2 separate regions of the Homo sapiens genome follow, and region 2 is linked to region 1. Evidence: fine-mapped expression QTL. A gene starts in region 1. The other region holds a variant in brackets. All regions are shown on one strand. Distances are from middle to middle. Region 1 holds the start of DVL3 (dishevelled segment polarity protein 3). Region 2 has its middle 4.9 kb from the start of ABCC5.

Region 1 (2,908 bases):
AGTTAGTGAGGCGGCAGGCAAGTGTGGGCGCCTCCCCCTCCCCCAGTCTCCTGGGAGTTGGGGGGGTTCGAGGGGGATCAGCCAGGCCCCCCTCTTCCCAGGCCAGCTGCTTCAGAACCTTCCGGCTCCAACATTCCATCCCCTCTTAAAGGGAAAGTGACTGCTTCCAAACTGTGCCTGTCCAGATCTCTGCAGCTGGGTGGAAGGGAAGACCCCACCAGGGAGGGGAAGATAGAGAACACCAAGAAACTCTTCCTGGCTATCCCACCCAGGCCCCAGGCCCTTCCTAACGTCTCTCCACTGGCCACCAACTGGAGGAAAAAAGCCCGAATTGGAGGAAAGATCAGCACCTGGGTCAGTGAGGACTACTCCGCAGGGGTCAGGCTCTCTGTTCCGGTGACAACACCCACAACAGCCCACAAAGGAGAGGGCAGGCAGCTAGATAAACATCAGATCTGCAGACCCCGCTCGCGGCCAGGCGCCCGAGCACCCCCGACACCCCTCCCCCAGCTCAAAGTCCCAGCAGAGCCCTCAGATGCAGCATACTCCAAATATGGCTGGGAGCTGTGCTGCTGAAAAGATGAAGGGGGCGAAGAACGAGGGCCACACGACCCAAGTCTGTGCGGAAAAAGGTGGCTCTGGCTCCTCGGCAGGAGGAGGATGGGGGACTCGGGCTCTGAAACTAGGTGGAGGGGGGGTGTGTCTGTCTCTGTGGGCCACTGGTCTCTGAAGAGGTAAGGGGACCGCACCGGCAGGAACTCTGATTGCTAGTGGGGAATTGGACGTCCCCTTAAACAAGGGAGGCCAACGTCCCCTCTTCAGAGGTAAACGGGAGTTGCTACTGGGGCTGGAACCAAAGGGGCCCAAATGGGCCGAGTCGCCCCTAGAAGTCAGAGCGGGGCTAGGAGCCGGTGTAGCGAGGCAAGTCGAAACGGACCGCGTCATCCCTTAGAAGCCAGAGCGGCCGGGGCTCCCGGAGGCGGGGCGGGGGCCATCCTCACCCGAAATCGTCGTCCATAGACTTGAAGAAGAACTTATAGCTGGGTCGCTGCAAAACGCCCTTAAAGTCCGCCAAGGTGACGCGCTCGGCGGGCAGGGGCAGCTTCACAAGGTACGGCGTCTCCTGCCCATCCAAGTGGTAGATGATCTTGGTCTCGCCCATGGCTCTGGCCTCGGGCCCGGCGGCCCGCGCGCGGCCTGCTCGGGCGGCCGGGCCGAGCCTCCCAGACGGCGGCGGCGCGCGGCGCGGCCCAGCGGCTCAACCCAGCTCGGCGGCTGCTGGCGGCGCCAGCTCCCTTGTTCTCCGGCCGCTACCGGGTCCCAGCGCCGCCCGCCGCCGCCGCGGCCGCCGCTTCCGCTCCCCACTCTCCCGACTGGACTGGCGACCGCGACTCTTCCGGTGGCCGCGGCCCTCCCGGCCCAGGGCTTCGTCCGGGCCCGCTCCCCTCCTCCGGCCCGGCGCGGCCCCGCCCCGGCGCGCCCCGCCCCCGGCCGCCGCGGAGAGGCGCCGGCGTCGCGGCAGATGGCAGGGTTTCCCGCCCACTGGCCGGGCCGCGGCGCTCCGGTCCCGGGTCCCTAGAAACGGAAGGGGAGATTCACCGGGATGGCGGCGTTCCCGGACCCCTGAAGGCCCTGACTCCGGACCCAAGTGGGATCGGCGACTCCTCTGCAGTCCAGGAAGAGTGGAATGCAGGGATTGCTTTGGTCCCCAGAAATGGTCTGGGGAAAGAGGGTGGGTCTGACTCTGGATCCCTGGAGGAGAATGACCTCAACATGGCCCTTCAGTGTTTCTTGAGAAGCACAACTGCTGTCACTGAGTCTACTAAACTGATCTCGAGAGAAGGACAGCATCCAGTTCTGATTCCTCCCTATAACCTTAGCGTCCAGTTGCAAGGTAGTGGTTTAATAAATGGGTTGAATGCGGAATAAGTGGGGCCCGGGCGCGGTGGCTCACGCTTCTAATCCCAGCACTTTGGGAGGCCAAGGCGGGCGGATCGCCCGAGGTCGAGAGTTCAAGACCAGCCTGACCAACATGGAGAAACCCTGTCTCTACTAAAAATACAAAAAAATTAGCCGGGCGTGGTGGCGCATGCATGTAATCTCAGCTACTCGGGAGGCTGAGGCAGAAGAATCGCTTGAACACGGGCGGCGGAGGTTGCGGTGAGCCGAGATCGGTGAGTCGAGATCCTGCCTTTGCACTCCAGCCTGGGCAACAAAAGTGAAACTCCATCCCCCCTCGCCCCCCCCCAAAAAAAAAGATAAGTGGATGCATGCATGCCTAAGACAGTAAGTCTCAAACCAGAACTCCAGAACTAGGTATAGCCGGTTCCTCACAGATCTCCTCACCCCTTAACTTTTAATTCATTTAATAAATACTGAAGGCCTACTGTGTATAAGGCATATCGCATGAGATATAGCGATAGCGAGACAGACAAGGCTGCTCTCAGGACCTTCCCTCAGCTGGAGGGAAGCACATAGGCTTGTAAATACATAACTTCAGAGTGACCACTGCTATGAAGAAGGTAAAACAAAGTGATGGGATAGTGACAGGGGAAGCCAGGCGCAATGGCTCATGCCTGTAATTCCAACATTTTGGGAGGCTGAGGCAGGTGGATCACCTGAGGTTAGGAGTTCGAGACCAGCCTGGCCAAAATGGTGAAACCCCGTCTCTAGTAAAAATACAAAAATTAGCTGGACATGGTGGCGCATGCCTGTAGTCCCAGCTACTCGGGAGGCTGAGGCAGGAGAATCGCTTGAACCCGGGAGGTGGAGCTTGCAGTGAGCCGAGATCCCACCACTGCACTCCAGCCTGGGCGACAGAGCGAGACTCCGCCTCAAACAAAAACAAAAACAAAACAACCAAAACAAAACGAGAAAGAGGTTTCTGATTGGTTAGAGAAAACTTCTT
Region 2 (2,908 bases), 130 kb after region 1:
GATTTTTTCTCACTGGTGGTCTCCTATAATCAATAAAGTACACAATTTCTGTTTTAAGAATACACATTTTTTCCTCAGGGTCTCAACAATTGAATTGTTTTGATTGAAAGAAACTGCAGCCTGCCAGGTGCGGTGGCTCTCGCCTATAATCCCAGCACTTTGGGAGGCCGAAGTGGGCGGATCACTTGAGTTCAGGAGTTCGAGACCAGCTTGGCCAATATGGCAAAACCCCTGTCTCTACTAAAAATACAAAAATTAGCCAGGCGTGGTGGTGCATGCATGTAATCCCAGCTACTCCAGAGGCTGAGGCAGGAGAATCACTTGAACACAGGAGGCAGAGGTTGCAGTGAGCCGAGATCATGTCACTGTACTTCAGCCTAGGTGATAGGGTGAGATTGCCTCAAGAAAGAAAGAGAGAAAGACAGAAAGAGAGGGAGAGAGGGAAGGAGGGAGGGATTACTAGTGATAACAACCTTTACACCAGAGTTGTTTCTCTCTTCTTCTGGTCAAAAGTCCATATTTATCAAGCAAAACGCTTAAGAGAAGTATTGGGGAATGACTGGGATTGACCATTCTGTCTGACAAGTCCTGTTTTTTGGAGAAGGCTCTGTTTTTTCTGGACTATTGGTCCTGCTTCTCTGGCTTAGAGGGATCCTGTTGATTCTCAGGTAGTGGGTGCTCAGTCCATTCTTCACAATAAAATGTGGGAGAATTCTCCATATACATCTCATCATGAGATGTTAGACATATTGTACCATTTTATTCCGTTGAATAAGTAAGTAATTGTCATTCTGGGAGGATTAAAATCCCAAGACCTGCCTATGGGCTGTGATTATTATTTTAGCTGAGTAGATTTAGAAGGGTGTTCTGGAGAGAGGGAACAGCTAGAATAACAACATGGAAAATACAATGTTGGCAGGACCTCAGGTTTGACTAGGAGAGTGACAGGAGATGAGGCAGTGGTATTTTGAGGGCCAGATCACGGAAGACCTTGCATACCCAGCCAAGGTTTGCTTTTATTTTATAGCCCAGTGTTTCCCTAACTCAAATAAGGCTCAGACCCCTTTTAAGAGAAACAATTCTCTCAAACCCCTGATGTTGACTTCTTATTTACATGAGAATATTACTTAAATAAATCCGTTCATAAAGCTGTGTGCAAAGTCATTATGCTTATAGTTCTTATAGCACTATAAAGTTGAAATTAATTTACAAATATTGTTTTGCTAAAATTAGATAATTGCTGTCAATTTCTTTCCTGTTTTTAACAAGGAGCTAGTTTTTGAACAGCTATCTGTTATTGTTGGGCCAATGAATCTGATAGTGCATCTCAATGTAAGAGTACTTTAAAAAATTTTTAAAGCAGGCCAGGCATGGTGGCTCACGCCTGTAATCCTAGCACTTTGGGAGGCCGAGCAGGCAGATCACCTGAGGTCAGGAGTTCGAAACCAGCCTGACCAACATGGTGAAACACCATCTCTACTAAAAATACAAAAATTAGCTGGGCGTCGTGGCATCCGCCTGTAATCCCAGCTACTAGGGAGACCGAGGCAGGCGAATCGCTTGAACCTGGGAGGTGGAGGTTGTAGTGAGCCAAGATTACCCCATTGCACTCCAGAGCGAAACTCCGTCTCAAAAGAAAAAAAAAATTTAAAAAGCAACGCTTCATACTAACTACTTCATACTAATGAAGTAA[C/T]GTAACAATGAAATAACAAGGGAAGTTGTTACCACAAAGGAAATGTGCAATGCTTTCCTTTATAATGATGAATGTGCAATATGACTGCTCATAACATGCCTATACTTCTGTGTACTTTAGGAAGACTTGGCTTCTCTATGAAAATATGTGAACCCTTTGGCTGTATAACATGCTGTCATGTCATCTGGCTTTCATCTGGCATTATTTAAAACTTAAATTCTCTTGTCTTCTAATTTGCCTGAGGCCATTAAAGAGTGCATTATTCTTTCACACTACATGGTTTCCATGATGTCAAATATAAAACTTAGGTTGGGCACAGTGGTTCACGCCTGTAAATCCCAGCACTTTGGGAGGCCGAGGAGGGCGGATCACCTGAGGTTAGGAGTTTGAGACCAGACTGACCAACATGGTGAAACCCTGTCTCTACTAAAACTACAAAAATTAGCCGGGCATGGTGGTGGGTGCCTGTAATCCCAGCTACTTGGGAGGCTGAGGCAGGAGAATCATTTGAACCCGGGAGGCGGAGGTTGCAGTGAGCCGAGACTGCGCCATTGCACTCCAGCCTGGGTAACAAGAATGAAACAATGTCTCAAAAAACAAACAAACAAACAAAACAAAAAACAAATATAAAACTTGATTTATTAACTAACTTTAAAAAAGGTCTTATTCCATGAAAATGCCTTTCATTGAAAAATTGAACTACAAAGGGAGCTTCTGTCTTGATAACTGTTAGAAGAATTCAACGTGAGTACCATAGCAGATATGGGGTGACTGTTAGCATGTGACATTAGTTCTAGACAAGCTAGGTAGAGGACGGTGTCAGGCTATTGCAGTAGAGCACTTCTGCCAATGAATGGACCACCATCTATCCAGTTCCACAACCACCTACATGTTACCCTTGACATTTCTTTCTCATTGCCCTGTATCTAATCTATCCACATGTTCTGTTGATATCACCTCTTAAATTTCTCTTGAGTTCATCTTTTTCTCTCCATCTTTTCCATCACAACCTTAATCCAAGCCACCATGATCTCTTTCCTACACAACAACAGTCACTCCTAGGTGGCCCCTTCTCTCCCATTCTAGTGGTCTCAAATTCTTTCCCAGTCTGCCAGCCACAGTGCAGTTTCCAAAAGATACATTTTTTTTTCTGTTTTTTTGTTTGTTTTTTGAGACTGAGTCTTGCTTTATCACCCAGGCTGGAGTGCAGTGGCC

The links. PIP is the estimated chance that this variant, and not a neighbour inherited with it, causes the effect.
Region 2: its variant is the best candidate, but not a certain one, in a credible set for the expression of DVL3 in whole blood (TOPMed, PIP 0.58).

Annotation. Positions count from the first base shown.
Region 1 is chr3:184,153,890-184,156,797 of GRCh38, reverse strand. It overlaps DVL3 (dishevelled segment polarity protein 3), which reads right to left and starts at 1,421. Exons shown (of 15, transcript NM_004423.4): 1 at 1,002-1,421. The coding sequence starts at 1,162. RefSeq lists an enhancer at 1-837 and a silencer at 1,175-1,524.
Region 2 is chr3:184,021,348-184,024,255 of GRCh38, reverse strand. No RefSeq gene overlaps it. Among named protein-coding and RNA genes, the nearest start is that of ABCC5, 4.9 kb to the right of the region's middle. The variant C/T (reference allele first, on the strand shown) is at 1,694.